4 linked regions of the Homo sapiens genome follow. The protein of the gene in region 3 purifies or fractionates together with the protein of the main gene of each other region. This does not show direct contact. Each region holds a gene or a part of one and is shown on either strand. Other genes may lie near its edges.

Evidence for each region. The genes of interacting proteins can lie anywhere in the genome.
Region 1: the proteins of ARCN1 (region 3) and NCAPG fractionate together in Homo sapiens (co-fractionation; one large-scale study listed by BioGRID). This does not show direct contact.
Region 2: the proteins of ARCN1 (region 3) and ACO2 fractionate together in Homo sapiens (co-fractionation; one large-scale study listed by BioGRID). This does not show direct contact.
Region 4: the proteins of ARCN1 (region 3) and AKAP12 fractionate together in Homo sapiens (co-fractionation; one large-scale study listed by BioGRID). This does not show direct contact.

Annotation. Positions count from the first base shown.
Region 1 is NC_000004.12:17,834,013-17,838,836, forward strand, and holds part of NCAPG (condensin complex subunit 3), read left to right. Parts: intron 1-286; coding exon 287-511; intron 512-3,146; coding exon 3,147-3,328; intron 3,329-3,614; coding exon 3,615-3,789; intron 3,790-4,824. UniProt on the Homo sapiens protein: Regulatory subunit of the condensin complex, a complex required for conversion of interphase chromatin into mitotic-like condense chromosomes.
Region 2 is NC_000022.11:41,509,651-41,514,474, reverse strand, and holds part of ACO2 (aconitate hydratase, mitochondrial precursor), read right to left. Parts: intron 2,600-4,824; coding exon 2,507-2,599; intron 1-2,506. UniProt on the Homo sapiens protein: Catalyzes the isomerization of citrate to isocitrate via cis-aconitate.
Region 3 is NC_000011.10:118,577,204-118,582,460, reverse strand, and holds part of ARCN1 (coatomer subunit delta), read right to left. Parts: intron 1,216-5,257; coding exon 952-1,215; intron 1-951. UniProt on the Homo sapiens protein: Component of the coatomer, a cytosolic protein complex that binds to dilysine motifs and reversibly associates with Golgi non-clathrin-coated vesicles, which further mediate biosynthetic protein transport from the ER, via the Golgi up to the trans Golgi network.
Region 4 is NC_000006.12:151,245,501-151,250,324, reverse strand, and holds part of AKAP12 (A-kinase anchor protein 12), read right to left. Parts: intron 1-4,824. UniProt on the Homo sapiens protein: Anchoring protein that mediates the subcellular compartmentation of protein kinase A (PKA) and protein kinase C (PKC).

The sequences.
Region 1 (4,824 bases), on a different chromosome or scaffold from region 3:
ATATAATTCAGCCTGACTCCAACTCCAGAAATTTTTATTGACTGTGAAGATTAACTTTGTCTTAAAGTATATAGCTCTATTATATGTTATGGTTCAAATAAATAAAAATAACATTTTTTTAAATTGAAATTTTAACTGTATTTTTGAAAAGTGATGTTTTCTTTAGACTAGACACTGTCATTAAAATTTGACTAAGAAAAAAACAAGATACATATTAATTTTATGTAAACAGAAACAAAACAGTTTACTGAATTTACTTTTTTTGGTGGGGAATATCTTGATTTAGGTTTTGCAAATTGATGATGTCACAATAAAAATAAGTGCTTTAAAGGCAATCTTTGACCAACTGATGACGTTCGGGATTGAACCATTTAAAACTAAAAAAATCAAAACACTTCATTGTGAAGGTACAGAAATAAACAGTGATGATGAGCAAGAATCAAAAGAAGTTGAAGAGACTGCTACAGCTAAGAATGTTCTGAAACTCCTTTCTGATTTCTTAGATAGTGAGGTAAGAAATAATCCAGTCCTGTGATTATGAAATGTCATTTTCAGCATGTATTTGTTTATTATTATTATTTTTTAAATTTATTATAGTTTAAGTCCTGTGATACATGTGCAGAACATACAGGTTTGTTACATAGGTATACATGTGCCATGGTGGTTTGCTGCACCCATCAACCCATCTACATTAGGTATTTCTCCTAACGCTATCCCTCCCCTACCCCCCTATCCCCTGATAGGTCCCAGTGTGTGATGTTCCTCTCCCCTATGCTCTTTATATCTTATTTTTCCTACTGGATTTTAAATTTGGATAGACATTTTTTATTTTACTTTTTAAATATCTTAATTAAATCCTAACTTTCACTATCATACCTAATTTCTCACTATCAAATTGTATATGCAAAGAAATGAAGTATAAACAAAAATGAAGTGATTAAAGTGGGTTGTTATTTTTTATTTCTTTATGTTGTATTTGTGATATAGAGACTCTAAGATTTATCCCCAAGACTTTTAAGAAATAGTTTAGAATAATTTTATATTGGGTGGGTAGAAGATGTAAGATAGGGTATGGGATTGGATCTCTTTTAAGTACTCTTGAACTACTATTTTTGTAGCACACATGTAAACCAACTGATTAAAAATTTTTTATACTGATTGTAGTTTTTCATTGAGTTAGAAGTGATATAACAAAACTTAATTTTATTTTTTTGAGATAGGGTCTTGCTCTGTCATCAGGCTGGAGTGCAGTGGCGTGATCATAGTCCACTGACCCCTCACCTGCTGGGTTCAAGCAATCCTCCTGAATAGCTGGAATGACAGGCATGTGCCACCATGCCCGCTGATTTTTAAATTTTTTGTAGAGACAGGGTCTCGCTCTGTTGCCCAGGCTGGTCTTGAACTCCTGGCCTCAAGTGATCCTCCTGCCTCAGCCTCCCAGAGTGCTGGGATTACAAGTGTGAGCCCTCGTGCCTGGCCCAAACTAATACTGTTAATGTGAACAATTCATTGGCATTTAGTACATTCAAAATGAAAGGCAACTACCACCTTTATCATCTAATTTAAAACATTGTCATCATCCCAAAAGGAAACTACTCATTAAGCAGTTGCTCCTCATTCCCCCTTCTGCCAGCCCTGACAGCAACCAATCCGCAGTCTGTTTCTATGGATTTAACTGTTCTGGATATTTTGTGTAAGTGGAATCATACAGTATGTGACCTCTGTTTAGCTTTTTAAATTTAGCATAACATTTTCGAGATTCATCCACATGGTATCTTGTATCAGTACTCCGTTCCTTTTTGTAGCCGAATACTCCATTTTATGTATATATGGTGATTTGTTTATGCATTCATCCATTGAAGGACAGTTGGGCTGTTTCTACCTTTTGGCTATTGTGAATAGTGCTGCTTACTATGAACATGGCATGTATATGTATTTGTTTGAGTAGCTGTTTCAATTCTTTTGGGTATCTGTATACCTAGGAATTGTGTTGCTCAGTCATTTAACTTTTTGGGAACTTGACAAACTGTTTTCCACAGTGATTGAACCATTTTAAATTTCCATCTTCAGTGTAGAAGGTTTTCCATTTCTCCACATCCTTATTGACACTTAGGTTCCATTTTTTAAAACATTATAGCTATCCTAGTATATATGAAGTGCTACTTCATTGTGGTTTTGATTTGCATTTCCTTAATGACTAGTGATGTTGAGTATCTTTTCATCTGCTTCTTGGCCATTTGTATATTTTGTTTGGATAAATGTCTGTTCAAGTCCTTTGCCCATTTTTAAGTTGGGTTGGTTGTCTTTATAGAGTTCTTTATATAGTTTGGGTAGTAGATCCTTATCAGGTATAATTTGTAACTTTTATTTTACAGGTTGTCTTTTTACTTTCTTGTTAATATACTTAGATGTATTAAACATTTTTAATTTTGGAGATACACTCATTTTTTTCTTTTGTTGCTTCTGCTTTTGGTGTCCTATCTAAGAATCCAGTGCTAAGTCTAAGTCATGAAGATTTATCCCTGTTTTCTTCTGAGAGTTTTCTGGCTTTAGCTTTTATATTTAGGCTGTTGATGCATTTTCAGTTAATATTTGTATATGGTCTAAGGTCCAGCTTCATTGTTTTGCCTGTGTACATCCAGTTGTCTTTTCCTTTGTCTTCTCTAGACTTTTGTTTACTTTTTCTAGGAATGCCTTCTGCTTCAACACCTTCTGTTCACATTCTATCCATTATTCAGACAAATTGCACTCCTACATATGGAGCTTTTGCTTATAGATAGGCACCTTCCTCTAATACCAGGGGCCAGGGTTTTCTATGTCTTAGAAACCCTAAGCATTTAAATATATGTTTTGCTCTTTTTTTCCAACAGTTATAAAAGGCCTTTTGGTTCTTCTAAAAAGTTTTAAGATAATTGAATTTTTCATGGCTAGACTAAGCATTTGTCTAGTCTCCTAGTCTTTTAGATTTGTCTAAAATTGTTATTCTAGCTTTGAAGAAACAGTCTTTTTATTTGCCTTTAAAGAATTTGTAATAACTCGAATGGTTTTTGGATGGTTCGTGTAAAAATACTGTAGGACAGGCTACATTGAGAGGCTTAAAAAGGAGATACAAATAAATTTCTTCTAATGAATGTCATCTTTGTTAGGTATCTGAACTTAGGACTGGAGCTGCAGAAGGACTAGCCAAGCTGATGTTCTCTGGGCTTTTGGTCAGCAGCAGGATTCTTTCTCGTCTTATTTTGTTATGGTACAATCCTGTGACTGAAGAGGATGTTCAACTTCGACATTGCCTAGGCGTGTTCTTCCCCGTGTTTGCTTATGCAAGCAGGTATTGAGTCATACTGATAAATCAAAAATCTGACTTGACATCAAATTCAAGTCCCCCATGAATTATATCTATAATGATATTTTGTTGTTGATACTTTTTCTGTCTTTAGTAGATAAATGATGAAATGACAAGAACGATACAGATTTTATCTATCTGAATTTTTGGCTCTTTCCTAGATGAAAATGCACTTAATGAGTGAATTTCCTACATAGTAGTTTTGAATTTCATACTTTTTCTCTCATCAAATAATGTTCTGCCAACATACTTTGAATTTGTTTCTCAATAGGACTAATCAGGAATGCTTTGAAGAAGCTTTTCTTCCAACCCTGCAAACACTGGCCAATGCCCCTGCATCTTCTCCTTTAGCTGAAATTGATATCACAAATGTTGCTGAGTTACTTGTAGATTTGACAAGACCAAGTGGATTAAATCCTCAGGCCAAGACTTCCCAAGATTATCAGGTGAGTGACTGTGGTAACTGCATGCAGATCACTGTTTTGGTAAAATAATCTCTCTCAAAGATCCCTTGAAATACTGAGGAACTGCATTTTGGTCTTTAGACTTCTGTCTCAAGCATATACCACAAAGCACGAAAGAAACATGACCTTGGGAAATGTGGAGAAATCATATGAAAACAGAAGTAATCAATGCTAACATTTTTGCTACTGAAAAGAAATTACTAAAAATCCACCACCCACACCATGCCCACCTAGTACTGACTGTTAATCTGAAGTAATAACCTATGTTATCTAGGACTCACAGAGTCTTCAAATGTTGGCTTACCTGCTATGCTTCTGGCACAAGAAAGGAGAATTCAAAGACTAGAACTCACCTCAAGCTTTTTTGGCTTTTAATTCAAAGAAGATAAATCAATTGCACACTGACTCACAGACTGAACTTAAGCTGGGTTGTTTTAATCCTTTAATGGCATTTGGTCAAACTTGTTACCATTTTTGAAATTTAATGTATTAGTGATTTCAGATGCTAACAGATTAAGTTGAAAGTATTACTCTATTTTATTTGATATTTAGTGATAAGCTACTCTGTTCAATTCATATGTTGTATATTATTGGAAAGATAAGATTACAAAGGATATTAGGCAAAATTAGGTAAGGGTCAGTAATAGAGCTATTAAGCACTTCATGACTTGAGACAAGGGCAAGAGTCATGTGGTAGGAATGATGAGTACAGCATTAGTTTTAAAACTCATTGACCAAAATTCAGTTAGGCCTTGTTGGTATTTGGGGAGTGGTTTGGGTAGAGGAAGGATGTTTTAGTAAAGGTGATATATGTAGATGGTTATGCAAATATTGGGGAACTGTAGAAAGATGACTTTGGCTAAGGATCCTGAATAGGACTGTTAGGGCACAACACTGGGGGTAGATTATAGATTGCTTTAAAGGCCAATGTAGGGAATTTGGAGTTGGCCTTATGTGCAATGGATAATTATGCAGGGCTTATGATGAAAGGGTTAATGTCATGAAAACCACTTATTG
Region 2 (4,824 bases), on a different chromosome or scaffold from region 3:
ACTTCTCTCGGAGCTCAGTTTCCCTATCAAGAAATAGCTAACAATCGTGCTCACATCATTGGTTCACTGATGACTGGATGAGATCCTGTCCATGAGGCACAGAATAGTGCCTGCGGGAAGCAACATTTTTATTTATTGTTTTGCAGCAAGAGCCTTCACCTGAGGTTCTGCCGCTCATCAGTCAGATGGAGTTAGTGCCCCACCCGGGGATGTGGGGAAGAACACATGAGAGGTGTGACAGGCTCTGTGAACTCTCAGGACCCACCAGTGCTCCCAGAAATCTTACAGAAACCCCAGGGCCTCTGCCTCAGGACAAGCATCTGCCTAGCAGACTCTAAGGTCCAAAGGTCTCATCTCTTGGGGATGCAGAGGGAAGACCTGGCTGCGAAGAACTGGCCAATGCTGCCACGTACAAGGATTTAAGACTAGTGCATCCCTAAAGAGCCTCAAGCTTGTAAAAGTTGGATCCACGAAGGCTGGGCACACAGAATTCGGGGTGGTCTACACGGTGTAGACACTTGTGGTCCACACGGTGTAGACACTTGTGGTCCACATCCAGGGGGAGAGGTCAGGCAGACATGAGGACTGCAGAAGATGTCACGATGACGCTGGCCGTGACAGTGAGCTCCCCGGTCTGTGGGTGTGGCTGGACAGATGGGGGTGAGGGCTGGGAAGAAGGACTAATGCCTAGAACTACACCTGGAAATTCAGCCATCCATCCACACAACACACACATACATTAAGGACCTGCTCTGTACTGACCTGGTCCCAAACCCAGAGCTAGAGAGGAATAAATAAGCCACAGTCCCTGTCCCCACAGAGCACATGATCCAGTGCAGAAAGCACTTGGCAGATGCTGGAACATAATGTGAAGAGATCCCACAGAGGATCCACTGGAAGCCACTGTGCCAGGCACGGGGAGGGCCGGGGAGGCTCCACAGAGGAACCAGAAAGCTGTGATGTGGAGGAAGGTCTGCGGGCCAAGTGGGGCCAGGGCACTTCCCAGAGGGAAAGGGGTTCAGGTTTGGGTTGGACCTAATGGACTGAGGCTGCTGAAGACGTGACATCAAGGCGGGAAGAAAGTAAAGCTGCAAAGTACTCCCATGGCCCCTGGGCATTTTCTTTTTAAAGAAACAAACACACGAGCTGCTGTATGCTTAGCAGCTAGCCGGTGGCAGATGTGAGCTGCCATCACTCACGGCTCCAAACTTTGGCCCAGGAGCTGCCATAAAGGCCTGGGCATTTGTACTGAGGTAGAAAGGGAGACACCTGCATTGCAGTGCCCTTTGTAACAGAAGGCCAAGACTGGGTCCACCTGACTCCCTAACCCTGCTGCAGAGAGGGGCTTTCTAGTCCCCACAGGCCGCTGCAAACGGCCATTCCACGCAGCCCCTTCCTGGCAAGAGTGATGGTTGGGCAGGGCAGAGGAGTGATCCCCTGCTGGCTCTGGTTTCAGAGCGGGGCGGTGCTGGGAGCCCATGCGGCGTCAGATTACAGCCTGACTCAGCACATCCTGAGGAGGCCAGGACAGTGAGGTCTGGGATGGAGGTGGGGGGAAGGGCCACCTTGCAAAGGTGCGAAGAGGCAGGTTTCATACATACAGGGTGGATGTAAATGGACACAAACTAGGTCAGTGGTCCCTAACAGTGCCCTTGGAAGAAAGGGAAGCACCCACCTCCCCAGGATATACACGTTCACACTTGCACTTCCAGAGACAAAACTGTCCAACTGTCCACCAAAAGAAGATCCATCCTTGGGACACCTCAGAGGAGCCCCCGGCTGACATGGCCACATGACCTATGGTACCTTCACCCTACAGAACACCATGAAGGAGCCAAAAAGAAATCCGAGGAGCGCCACGTGCAGAAGCAGAAAGAGCTCTGGGGGCGAGGGAGGCGGCAGAGCAGCACGGTGGCATGGGGCACTCGCTCCAGACCAGCCCTCCTGCCCACAGGCCTGGCTCCACAGTAAGCCAGCTAGGTGTCCCTGGGCAAGAAGGTTAACATCTCTGTGCCTCAGCTGCCTCCTCTGTAGGGTGTGGATAGTAAAAGCACCTACCTCACAGGGCATGGCAAATATCTTTCAAGTGCTCAGCCTAGTACCTGAGACACAGTATGGGCTCATCAAATGTCAGTGATGCATGCCACAAGGGGTGACACTTGTGAAAAAAAACAAAATAATACCATGTTCTGTATGAGAGTTTATGGGAATAGAGATGCTTGAGTACACACCCAGAAGACAATGTGGAAAGAAACATGTCGCACTTAAAATGCTGGTTACCTGGGTGGTTAGGAGGTATTATTTTAACTTCTCACCCAGAAAATGAGCACGTATAATGACATAATGAAAATCAGTTTCAAAACAAAGGAGGAAGAGCATAAGAGCTGATGGATATGTCATCCAGTTCCCCTCAGCCCCCCTGGGCCTCAAACCCCCTCCCCCCATAGGCCTGGAACATACTTCTCTGGCTTGGGCCCTTGGGACGGCAGACTGAGCCCAGCTTTACCTGGTGAATGATTCCAGATCCAGGCTTCCAGAAGCCCACGCCATATTTGGCACCTGCAGTTGCCAGGAAATTATAAACTTCCTGGTTGATGTCCTATTGAGACAAATCAATAATTGGGCGTTAGCAACATGGTTTGTGTCCAGGTGACCCTCACCAAGCCCTCCCCACCCCATCAGCCTCCCTTCTGACTCTGAAATACTGGCACTGGAGACAGGCCCTCTCTTAGAGACCTTCTAAAAATAATTCCAAAGAGCTTGGATGTTGGCCCAGTCTCCACTAGCAGTGTCAGAGAGAAGGACAGGGGAGCAGAGATGGAGCCCCAGTTCTGTGACACCTGGCCAGGGTGGTGGGTCTGGAACAAGTCCCTGCCCTGGTCTGGGTCTCAGTTTCCTTATCTGGAGAAGGGACTGGTCTAAATAATTGCCAAGAGTGCCTGTGGCACTCAAGTCCCCAGATGAGGCCAGCAGTGCAGAGGCAGGCCCTGGCCTAGGCGCAGTGGCTGGGTGCAGTGGCTCACGCCTGTAATCCCAACACTTTGGGAGGCTGAGGCAGGCAGATCACTTGAGGTCAGGAGTTCAAGACCAGCCTGGCCAACATGGCGAAACCCTGTCTCTACTAAAAATACAAAAATTAGCCAGGCATGGTAGTGCACACCTGTAATTCCAGTTACTCGGGAGGCTGAGGCACAAGAATTGGTTGAACCTGGGAGACAAGGATGCAATGAGCCGAGATCGTGCCACTGCACTCCAGCCTACAAGACAGAGCGAGACTGTCTCAAAAAATAAAAATAAGAATAAAATAAATAAAAATTAGCTGTGCACCTGCGGTCCCAGCTACTTGCAGGCCGAGGCAGGAAGATCACTTGAGCCCAGGAGTTCAAGGCTGCAATGAGCCGAGATCGCACCACTACACTCCAGCCTGAGTGACAGGGCAAGACCCTGCCTCAAAACAAAACAAAAACCCCAGAGGCTTTTTTTGAAATAACTTGCTGGAGATCCCAGGCTTAGACGACACCTGAGAGAGCCCCCTGGACTGGTGTCTGACTGTCGGAAGTGCTGAATTCTTGGTAATGTGTTTGATGGGCCCAAATGGAAGGCTGTCGAAGGGACCACTGTTCTGAAAAGGAGGTTTCAGCCAAACGAAATGATGACACGGGCTGTAGCCATCCTGCCTATAATCTGAAGGAAGCTTCCTTGAGGGACAGGGAAGGGCCCACTGCACAGCAGATGTGAGGCCAGGGTTTATCTGGAAGACATGGGAGGTCCCTGTGTGGGGTCAGTGAGACTGACCCCAGTAACAAAACGGTGGGATTCTAGTGGACTCTACTGAGTCTCAAAGGAGGAACTAGGAAATGGGACCTGCCAGCCTCCGGCATGGGAGAGCGATGCTTCAGAGAAGGGACCTCAGCCAGTGCCCTCGGACCCTTGATGAGATACACTCAAACCACACACCCCTTCACTGAAACTCCAGACCAGTGTGTGCCCTCTGAAGGCCCACTGGGTTCCCCCAGGTAAGAGAATGGCAAAGAACGTGGGTTTCCAGAGCAGTCTCTTTCCAATTAATAATTAATACATCAGCTTTTTCATTTACAAATCGGTCACTTATGAAATTGGTATCCAGGACAGGAGGCTGTGGTCGTGTCTGGGCGCATGTGACTACACGTCTGTGTTAAGTGTGAGGAAGGGGTGTGGGAGGACCCCAGACTGGTGCCAGAGTCTCGGCCTGGACTCAGCCTGGATCCATCTCTGGTTCTGTGACCCTAGACAGGTCACTGCCTCTGAGCCCTAGCCAGAGGGACACTTTACAAATACACGTAATAATGACCACATTCTAGGCCGGGCGTGGTGGCTCACACCTATAATCCCAGCACTTTGGGAGGCCGAGGTGGGTGGATCACCTGAGGTCAGGAGTTTGAAACCAGCCTGGCCAACGTGGTGAAACCCTGTCTCTAGTAAAAATACAAAAATTAGCCAGGTATGGTGGTGGGTGCCTGTAATCCCAGCTACTCGGGAGGCTGAGGCATGAGAATCGCTTGAACCCAGGAGGCGGAGGTTGCAGTGAGCCGAGATTGCAGTGAGCCGAGATTGTGTGTCACTGCACTCCAGCCTGGGGGATAGAGCAAGACTCTGTCTCAAAAAAAAAAAAAAAAAAAAGACCATATTCTTTCTCCGCTTAAACTGTTCTAGGACTCTGAGGATGGTGACCATAGCGTTCCCACAGCCCTCGCGTTCCTGGCTGCCCCTGCCCACCTCATACCACCCGCTCTTCCAAACACAGAGAACTCCAGCAGTACAGGCCCCCTCTCACTTCCACAAAAG
Region 3 (5,257 bases):
GAGCCACCACGCCCAAGACCCTGATTCTTACAGCCGGGTGCAGCGGCTCATGCCTGTAATCCCAGCACTTCGGGACGCCAAGATAGGCAGATCACCTGAGGTCAGGAGTTCGAGACCAGCCTGGCCAACATGGTGAAACCCCGTACAAAAATTAGCCAGGCATGGCGATGCACATCTGTAATCTCAACTACTCGGGAGGCTGAGGCCAGAAAATTGCTTGAACCTGGGAGGTGGAGGTTGCAGTGAGCCGAGATTGCACCATTGCACCACTGCACTCCAGCCAGGGCAAGAGCGAGACTCCGTCTTTAAAAAAAAAAGAATCAGGGTCTTGCTGTGTTGCCCACACTAAAGTATAATGCCTGTGCACTTGAACTCCTGGCCTCAAGCAATCCTTCTGCCTCAGCCTCCTGAGTAGCTTGGACTACAGGCACATGCTACCGCACCTGGCCTTAGCCTTCATTTTAAGCAAGACTTTGGCATAAAGTCTTAAAAGGTGTGTGTGTGTGTGTGTGTGTGTGTGTGTCTGTCTGTCTGTCTGTCTCTGGATCAGTAAGTCTTACCTAAGTCTTCATTTTAAGCAAGACTTTGGCATAAAGTCTTAGAAGAGGGGTGTGTGTGTGTGTGTCTGTCTCTGGATCAGTAAGTCTTACCTAAAAAACATTACCTAAAAAGCATAGCCAAACAAGTGTCAGAACTAGAACGGCAGATTAGAACAACTGCTTAAGAACTGGGAAATGAAACAGTAGTTCCCATATTCTTTTGAGACATCTATAGTCTAAGAGGACACCCAATAAATGTCTGCTGAATAAACAAGGTGCTGCAGCAATAAGTCGCTGGGGTGCGGAGTAGGAACCTGCAAACTGGTTAGCATCAGCTGCTTTGGAGGAAAAACTAGTTTCACATAAAATGTAAAACAAAAAGTGGAACCCAGTATTATAGCAGTACTCTTACCACTCTTGAGAAGAGCCTTAGGGTCTCCAAATCTTCTAAAATGTTGCTGTTTTTGGTAGTGATCAGTACCATATACAGTTTCTCCATAGGCTGGTAGACATATCTTACACTCTCTGTTTCAACAAACGTATGTTGTTTTCCAGTGTTCATGAGCTTTGGAAAAGCTGCTAATAAGCCCTCAATCCGAGTTCGGGTCATTTCCACAAACTGTCGAGAAACAATAGCCTTTCCTGCTTTTGTGCAGACCGCTGCTGCCAACAGCACCTGCCAGGAACATATGCATAAGTAAGTACTAATTATTTCTTCACATCTGTTTTCTCAGCATCTCAGGAAATGTTCCATAGAATGACATATTTATTTAGTGACATGACTAGTAGTAGTATTATTTTTAAGACAGGGTCTCACTCTGTCACCCATGCCGGAGTGCAATGGCAAGACCACAGCTCACTACAACCTCAAACTCCTGGGCTCAAGAAATCCTGAGTGGCTGGGACTACAAGTGTGTGCCACCAAGCCTCGCTAATTTTTAAAAAGCTTTTAGTAGAGACAGTATCTCGCTATGTTTCCCAGGCTGGTCTTGAACTCCTGGGTTCAAGCGATCCTCCTGCCTTGGCCTCCCAAAGTGCTGGGATTATAGGCGTGAACTACCACGACCAGCTGACATGACAAGTAATAGAATACTGACTTTCACGGGCACAGTGGCTCACACCTGTAAACTCAGCACTTTGGGAGGCCAAAGCGAGTGGATTACTTGAGGTCAGGAGTTCGAGACCAGCCTGACCAACATGGTGAAACCCCATCTCTACTAAAAATACAAACACATTAAGAGACTTAGACATGTCAATCAATCACAATGTATAAATCAAATTTGAACAGTGACTGAATAATTGATAATATTAAAAATTATTGCTAATTTTTTAGGTGTGAAAATATGCTATCATGGTAATATATTTTTATGTAAGGAATACTTATATATTTTTAAAAAAGAGTTGTGTAGTTTTGAATCCTTCCATAGTCTCTCATATTAAAGGTGCTCCCTCAATGACTTTATATTGAACTAAAATAATTGTCTGGGATACATCTTATCTTCAAACTACGCTAGTTTTGCATGTAGTACTAACAAAAGGTCACTGGATTTAGTAATTATCCTGAGGATCAGAATTCACAATTTCTTTCTTTTTTTTTGGAGACAGGGTCTCACTTTGTCACCTAAGCTGGACTGTAATGGTGCAATCTTGGCTCACCGTAGCCTCAACTTCTGGGCTTGAACAATCCTCCTGCCTCAGCCCCCTGAAAGGAGCTGGGACTATAGGCAGGTGCCATCATGCCTGGCAAATTTTTGTATTTTCGGTAGAAGTGGGGTTTCACCATGTTGCCCAGGCTGGTCTTGAACTTCTGGACTCAAGTGATCAGCCCACCTTGGCCTCCCAAAGTGCTGGGATTACAAGCATGAGTCACCACGCCTAGCCAGAACTCACAATTTCATGTGTTGAATATCAGTTACAAAATATTCCTTTTAAAAGCAACTATCCTAATATTATATAAATGGGTTTTTATGACTTGGGATAAAATTTCCCAAACTGCCAATATATCACACATGGATTCAAAACTGCTAAATACCAAACTGATGATTCAAAAAGTGGCCCCAGTGATGACATGATGTTCATAAAGAATCTAGAAAAAATTGTTTTATTAATATGAAAATGGAAAAAAGTAATTATTTCTAAATTAAACTTTATTTATTTAAAACATATACATATAAGTGAATTATTAACTATTTTAAGAACATATTTGACTATTTTTGCTACCTTTTTTTTTTTTAAGATGGAGTTTTGCTCTTGTTGCCCAGGCTGGAGTGCAATGGCAAGATCTCCGCTCACTGAAACCTCCACCTCCCAGGTTCAAGTGATTCTCCTGTCTCAGCCTCCCGAGTAGCTGGGATTACAGGCGCCTGCCACCACGCCCGGCTAATTTTTTTTTTTTTTTTTGTATTTCTAGTAGAGATGGGGTTTCACCATGTTGGTTGGCCAGGCTGGTCTCAAATGCCTGACCTCGGGTGATCTGCCCACCTCGGCCTCCCAAAGTGCTGAGATTACAGGCATGAGCCACCGCCCGGCCTATTTTGGCTGCATTTTAAAAAGTTTATACAATTGGCAAAAAGCTTTCCTTCTTAATAGTTTCATCAGAAAAGTAGGGAATTCCCTTATATTTGGGATCATTTCACATTGGTTTCTCCTTTTCCTAAAGACTTAGAACTAGTGTCCCAAATTTGCAAAGAACCAAGCTGATATTAGAAAAACTAAATGACTGGGAGTGAGAAAATCTATTTTCTAGTTTTGTTCTTCTATTTACTATCTGCCTGACCTTCAGTTACCCAACCTCTCTTAACCTCGTTTCTTTTCCTATAAAATGCAGCATTATCTAATGACCTTACAAGCTATTATGAGGGCCAAATGACTATAATGAAACTGTACTTCAGAAGTGCTATACAACTTGTAGCACATATATTCATGATGTAAAACAGCACCATTAGTAATAATAAACATGCATCTCATGAAAAAAATTTATGCCACTTCAAGGTAATGGATTTTTCTTTTTTTATTAAAAAAAAAAAAAAAAAAAAAAAAAAAAAAAAGAGAGACGGGGTTTTGCCATGTTGCCCAGGCTACAAATTCCTGGGCTAAAGTGATCCGCACACCTCAGCCTCCCAAAGTGCTGGGATTACAAGTGTGAGCCACAGCATCCGGCCAAGGCAATGGATTTTTGCCTTTGTCAATATTTTGATATTCAAATAATGAATATTGACTCTCCCCCCAAAATTTTACATACAGTTTCAGGGAATGCATCGATCCTCTAGAGAAGTTATTTCAAATGGCCCATAGAAAATCCCCTCATGCGATGAGAAATATTATTAATAAATGGGAGCATATTGTAAATGTAATCCCTGTAGAGCCTCCTATCCCTAAAAGGTTGAGAGTCATAGCTCTAGGAAGTCATGGTCCTCTATGTTAGAATTTTATGAGGTTTTGAAGAAATAAGACAAATCAAATGAACACCTAAAGAAAGGACAGCTCAGACCAAAACTTCAGACCTATATAAACATGCTGCATTTAATAGAAACCCCATATCTAATAATAAACCTGTTAGAAACAATGTTTACAGGCTCAAGGGTAGTTCTTAGGTTTCCAACTGGAGTTAAAAACACCTCTATACCATACAAGTAAAATTTAGGTAAAAACATCAAAAGCAACTTGAGAGGGAAAAAGGAACAAAAAGGTGTATGTTACTATCCACTTTATTTATTTATTTATTTATTTATTTATTTATTTATTTATTTATTTATTTTTTGAGAGAGTGTCTCACTCTGTAGTCCAGGCTGGAGTGCAGTGGTGCCATCTTGGCTCACTGCAAGCTCTGCCTCCTGAGTTCAAGCAATTCTCATGCCTCAGCCTCCTGAGTAACTGGGACTACAGGCACAGGCCAGCACCACCAAGCCTGGCTAATTTTTCTATTTTTAATAGAGACAGGGTTTTGCCATGTTGGGCAGGCTGGTCTCCAACTCCTGGCCTCAAGTCATCTGCGCGCCTTGGCCTCCAAAGTGTTGGGATTACAGGAGTGAGCCACTGCACCTGGCCCATCCACTTTACTGATGAGCATGTTCAAAAACTAATTATAGGTACTGGTAATCTCCATTTTTGCGATATTATAAGAATTAACTGAGTAATTATTTATCGAACATCTACTATACATACAACATGCTTTCTGAGAATTAAGATGACACAGGCTAGCATTCTGCCTACAAGAAGCTTAATAGGGATAAGACACAAACACAAATAACTGTAATATGAGGCAGAATGTGTTAAGTAACATGAGAGAGTAACCGATAAAGTGCGTGGAAATTCAGAGGAAGAGATTACTTCCAGCTGGTACAGTCAGGGATGACTTGATAGAAGAAACAGCATTTAGGCCGGGAGCGGTGGCTCATGCCTTAATCCAGCACTTTGGGAGCCAGGGCAGGCAGATCACCTGAGGTCAGGAGTTCGAGACCAGCCTGGTCAACATGGGAAAACCCTGTCTCTACCAAAAAATACAAAAAATTAGCCAAGTCTGGTGGTGCACGTCTGTAGTCCCAGCTACGGGGAGAGTGAGGTGGGAGGATTGCTTGAACCTGGGAGGCGGAAGTTGCAGTAAGCCAAGATCATACCACTTCACTCCAGCCTGGGCTACAAAGTGAGACTCTGCCTCAAAAAAAAAAAAGAAAGAAAGAAAGAAAGAAACAGAATTTAGATCATGCTTTGATGAATTC
Region 4 (4,824 bases), on a different chromosome or scaffold from region 3:
AGTTTCACCATGTTGGTCAGACTGGTCTCAAACTCCTGACCTCAAATGATCCACCTGCCTCAGCCTCCCAAATGCTGGGATTACACGCGTGAGCCACAACGCCCAGCCTATTTATTTATTTTTTTGAGACAGGGTCTCTGCAGCTTCAACTTCCCGGGCTCTAGTGATCTTCCCACCTCAGCCTCCCAACTAGCTGGAATTACAGGCATGTGCCACCACACCCGGCTAATTTTTAAATTTTTTGTAGCAGTGGGGTCTCACTATGCTGCCTAGGCTGATCTTGAACTCCTAGGCTCAAGTGATCCTCCCACCCTCACCTCCCGAAGTGCTGGGATTATAGGCATGAGCCACCATGCCCACCAGGTGTGAGCCACCATGCCCACGAGCCACATGTTGGTATTTATGTATGTATGAACTCACCATAGCCATGAAAGAGACAAGGGTAACACTTGAGATGTAGAATATAAAACTATTTTAAACCATGGGCTTGCTATTATAATTGATCAGATGTTTAGCCACTCCCACAATGCTTTCAGTTTATTGCACAAATAGACACAGCAGAAAAAATTTAAAAGTAAAAGGAAATCAATAAACAGGTTTATGCATATATGGAAACTTGAGTTTTAACAAGAGGTAACTTTTTAATCAATGGTACTGGAGCAATAGGTAACCCATATAAAAATGAATTTAAGATTTCTCCTTCTAGACATCATCAGTAGCTAGTGGAATAAAGATCTAAATATATGAAAGAGAGAACTTTAACTTTTTTAGAACTGAACTTCTGTTTCCCCAGTTCCTAGCACAGTTCCTGGAGTACAGAAGCTAGTAAAGAAGTATTTATGAAATGGCCAGGCGTAGGTGGCTCACCCTGTAACCCAGCACTTTGGGAGGCCAAGGCAAGAGGATCACTTGAGCTCAGGAGTTCGAGACCAGCCTTGGCAACACAGTGAGACCTTGTCTCTATTATATTAAAAAATAAATGGAAGAAATTAAAACAGAAATATTTATGAAATCAAGATTGAATAGTAAGTGGCTGAGAAAGCCAGAACTCTATTCTTCAACAACTTGGTAGGTTTTAAAATTTCTTTACAGATTTTTGGACCAGTCAAATGCCATAAACTAAGCCCTTAGCTACTGTCTACTTATTCAGCACAAGGGAAGTTTTAAAATGATAAATAAGGGAAGAGGGCTTAGGAGGCAATGAGATGGAAGGGGAACACCGAAAAGTCACAGCTTCTGGCTCAGTAGGGATACGGGCATTTCACTGAACACCTACTTACCTTGAATGGCACAATCTATTTTAAAAAGCCTCCGTTAGCAATCCACTTTTTTTTTTTTGAGACAGAGTCTTGCTCTGTCGCCCAGGCTGGAGTGCAATGATGCGGTCTCGGCTCACTGCAACCTCCACCTCCTAGGTTCAAGCGATTCTCCTGCCTCAGCCTCCCGAGTAGCTGGGATTACAGGTACACACCACCATACTGGCTAATTTTTGTATTTTTAATAGAGATGGGGTTTCACCATGTTGGCCAGGCTGGTCTTGAACTGCTGACCTCGTGATCCGCCCGCCTCGGCCTCCCAAAGTGCTGGGATTACAGGCGTGAGCCACCATGCCCGGCCAGCAACCCACTTTTTAATATAGTCAAACAAAGGAATGAAATTATGTGGAAGAAATATTTTCCTTTATTTTATCCTCCAGATGTGTGAAGGAAAATGCTACTCTTTCATCATGTGAAACCGTCCCTCTCACCCACACAAGTTCCAATCTCAGTGAAATCTGCACATGCTATCACCCAGTGTCACCTAGACCTGAACCTCTCCCTGGCCCTTATTCAGCTCTTACGCCTACTCCTTCCCCTCCCTTAAGGTAATGGAGCCCACACCCCACACATTAGAATATCTGATGAGCATTTTAAGACTACAGAATCCCAGCACAGTGGCAGGAGCTGGTAGTCTCAGTTACTCAGGAGGCTGAGGCCAAAGGATGGCCTGAGTCCGGGAGTTCAAGACTAGCCTGGGAAACACAGTGAGACCCTGTCTCTCAAAAAAAAAAAAAAAAATCACAGAATCCCAGACCCTGAGATTGCCTGGGATTCTAATTCAATAAATCCAGGATGAGGTGTAGGGGTGTCTTTGAAAAGCTCTCTAGGTGATTCAATAGCACCACCAGGTTTGGGAATTAGGAAAAATTTAATCCTTCAATACTCCCAGTTTGCAGTATTTGCATATAACAAATAGATGGTCAGCCAATAAACTGCAGTAATCTCTCCTTCTTAAATTTTGGTTTATTTCGTTTTGAAATCAAACATGAAACTGACATGCTACTACAACTGGGATTAAGATTAGGCAGAGAGAAACTACAGGGTTTCCCCCATTTAAAAAACATCACAGAGAAATCACAGGGAAGACAAAAAGCTTTGAACCTGAAATGAATACTTGTATTAAGAGGTGCCTAATGGTGTCCCGGTGTCCCAGATGGTTTCCTGTGCTTTGAACACCTACATTTTTCTCAGAAAATCCATGTATACCATCCAGTTAACAGAGCCAGGCTGTTTGCCGTGAGAACGGGAGAGGATCCCGGGTAAGCCTTCACTCTATTGTTTTCCCAAGAGGTGGATTTCTGCTGCTTCCAATCCCTGATCTCAACATTTCACGGATCATGACCACAAAGTAATTTCTGGCAACTAAATGATTTTAGATTGTTCCAAGAGAAGAAATTTTAAAAGTGATAGCTAAAGAAGTAGGTCATCCTCCAAGCAAATAAATTTAAAGATGGTTCATTAATTTGGAAAGGAAAAGGAGCAAAGGAGAGTAAGACTGCTCTACCTCAGCTGCGTTTTTATTCTTGAACTTGCTTTTTTCCAATTTGATTAATTTCTGGGGAAAAAGTTTTTTTGTTTTTTTGTTTTGTTTTGTTTTTTTAAATAGAGATAGGGTCTTGCTCTGCCACCCAGGCTGTAGTGCAGTAGCATGATCATAGCTCACTGCAGCCTCATACTCCTGGGTGGAAGCAATCCTCTCACCTCAGCCTTCCAAGTAGCTAGGACTACAGGTACACGTCACCGCACCCAGCTAAATTTTTTATTTTTTGTAGAGATGGGGTCTTGCTATGTTGCCCAGGCCACTCTTGAACTTTCTCTCAAGTGATCCTCCCTTCTTGGCCTCTCAAAGTGCTGAGATTACAGGTGTGAGCCCCCACACCTGGCTAGAAAAAAAAATCTTTAAAAATTAATTGGGCAGGGCATGGGGGCTCACACCTGTAATCTCAGCACTTTGGGAGGCAGAGGTGGGAGGATCACTTCAGTCCAGGAGGTCCAGACCAGCCTGGGCAACACAGTGAGACCTTGTCTCTACCAAAAATAAACAAAATTAGCCAGGCATGGTGGTGTGCACTTGTAGTCCCAGCTACCTGGTGGTGTGTGCCTGTAGTCCCAGCTACTCAGGAGGCTGAAGTAGGAGGGTCATTTGAGCCCAGGAGGTCGAGGCTGCAGTAAACCAAGATTGCACCACTGCATTCCACACTGGGCAACAGAATGAGAGCCTATCTCAAAAACAATAAATAAATAAAATTAAAGTTAAATGAAAATGAAAATGAAAATTAATTAACAGTGAAACAAACCATAGCCTTTCATGCTCTGACAGCCAGACCAGTGCATGATCAGATGGCAAGCACATGGCAGAGAAACATGATGAGGCATTCAACTTCACAGTTAAAAATGCACCAAGGAAACTGAGGTACCATTCTTCACCTAGCACATTGGCAAGTATTGGAAAATCTGATACCCATGAAGGCAAAGCATGGGAAAACGAGTGCTGATCTCCACGGTGGAACTGCAAAGTGGTAGAACCTCTTTGGAAAGTCAATTTAGGAAGGGTTAAATTTTTTGTTTTTGTTTTTGTTTTTGTTTTTGAGACGGAGTCTTGCACTGTCACCCAGGCTGGAATGCAGTGGTGAGATCTCAGCTCACTGCAACCTCCCCCTCCCAGGTTCAAGAGATTCTCCTGCCTCAGCTTCCCAAGTAGCTGGGATTACAGGCACCTGCCACCACACCCAGCTAATTTTTTGTGTTTTTAGTAGAGACGAGGTTTCGCCATGTTGGCCAGGCTGGTCTCGAACTCCTGACCTTGTGATTCACCTGCCTCGGCCTCCCAAAGTGCTGGGATTACAGGCGTGAGCCACCGCACCTTGCCGGGTTAAATTTTTAAATGCATATAAAGCTTGCAATTCAGCAATTACACTTATGGACGAGGACAATCTAAATATAAACCCAAGGAATTGGTTAAATCGTTACAGGGCTTCAACCCACAAAAGGGAAATTTATGCACCCAAATTAATAAGAATGGGGGCAGTTATTTATGTCCTGATATGAAAAGACATCCAAAACCTAAATCTATATGTGATATGATCTTTTTCTTAAATGGAAAAGACTGTGCCATTTTTATCTACTTTCATGTGCATGAAGTTTTCGAAAGAATATGTAAGAAGCCATCATATTGGCTTCAAATTTTACTTAAATTTGTGAGTAATTTACCCTACTTATAAATTTAAGTTCTCAATCATTAATTTTTTTAAAAAATAAACATTAAATGAATATTGCTATGCAATGACTTTAAATAAAAATCATTAATAAGGGTAAACACATGCTTTTGATTTTTTTTTTTTTTTTTTTTGAGACGGAGTCTCTCTCTGTCGCCCAGGCTGGACTGCAGTGGTGACTGCAGTGGTGCCATCTCGGCTCCCTGCAAGCTCCACCTCCCGGGTTCACGCCATTCTCCTGCCTTAGCCGGGTGGATCACGAGGTCAGGAGTTTGAGACCAGCCTGGCCA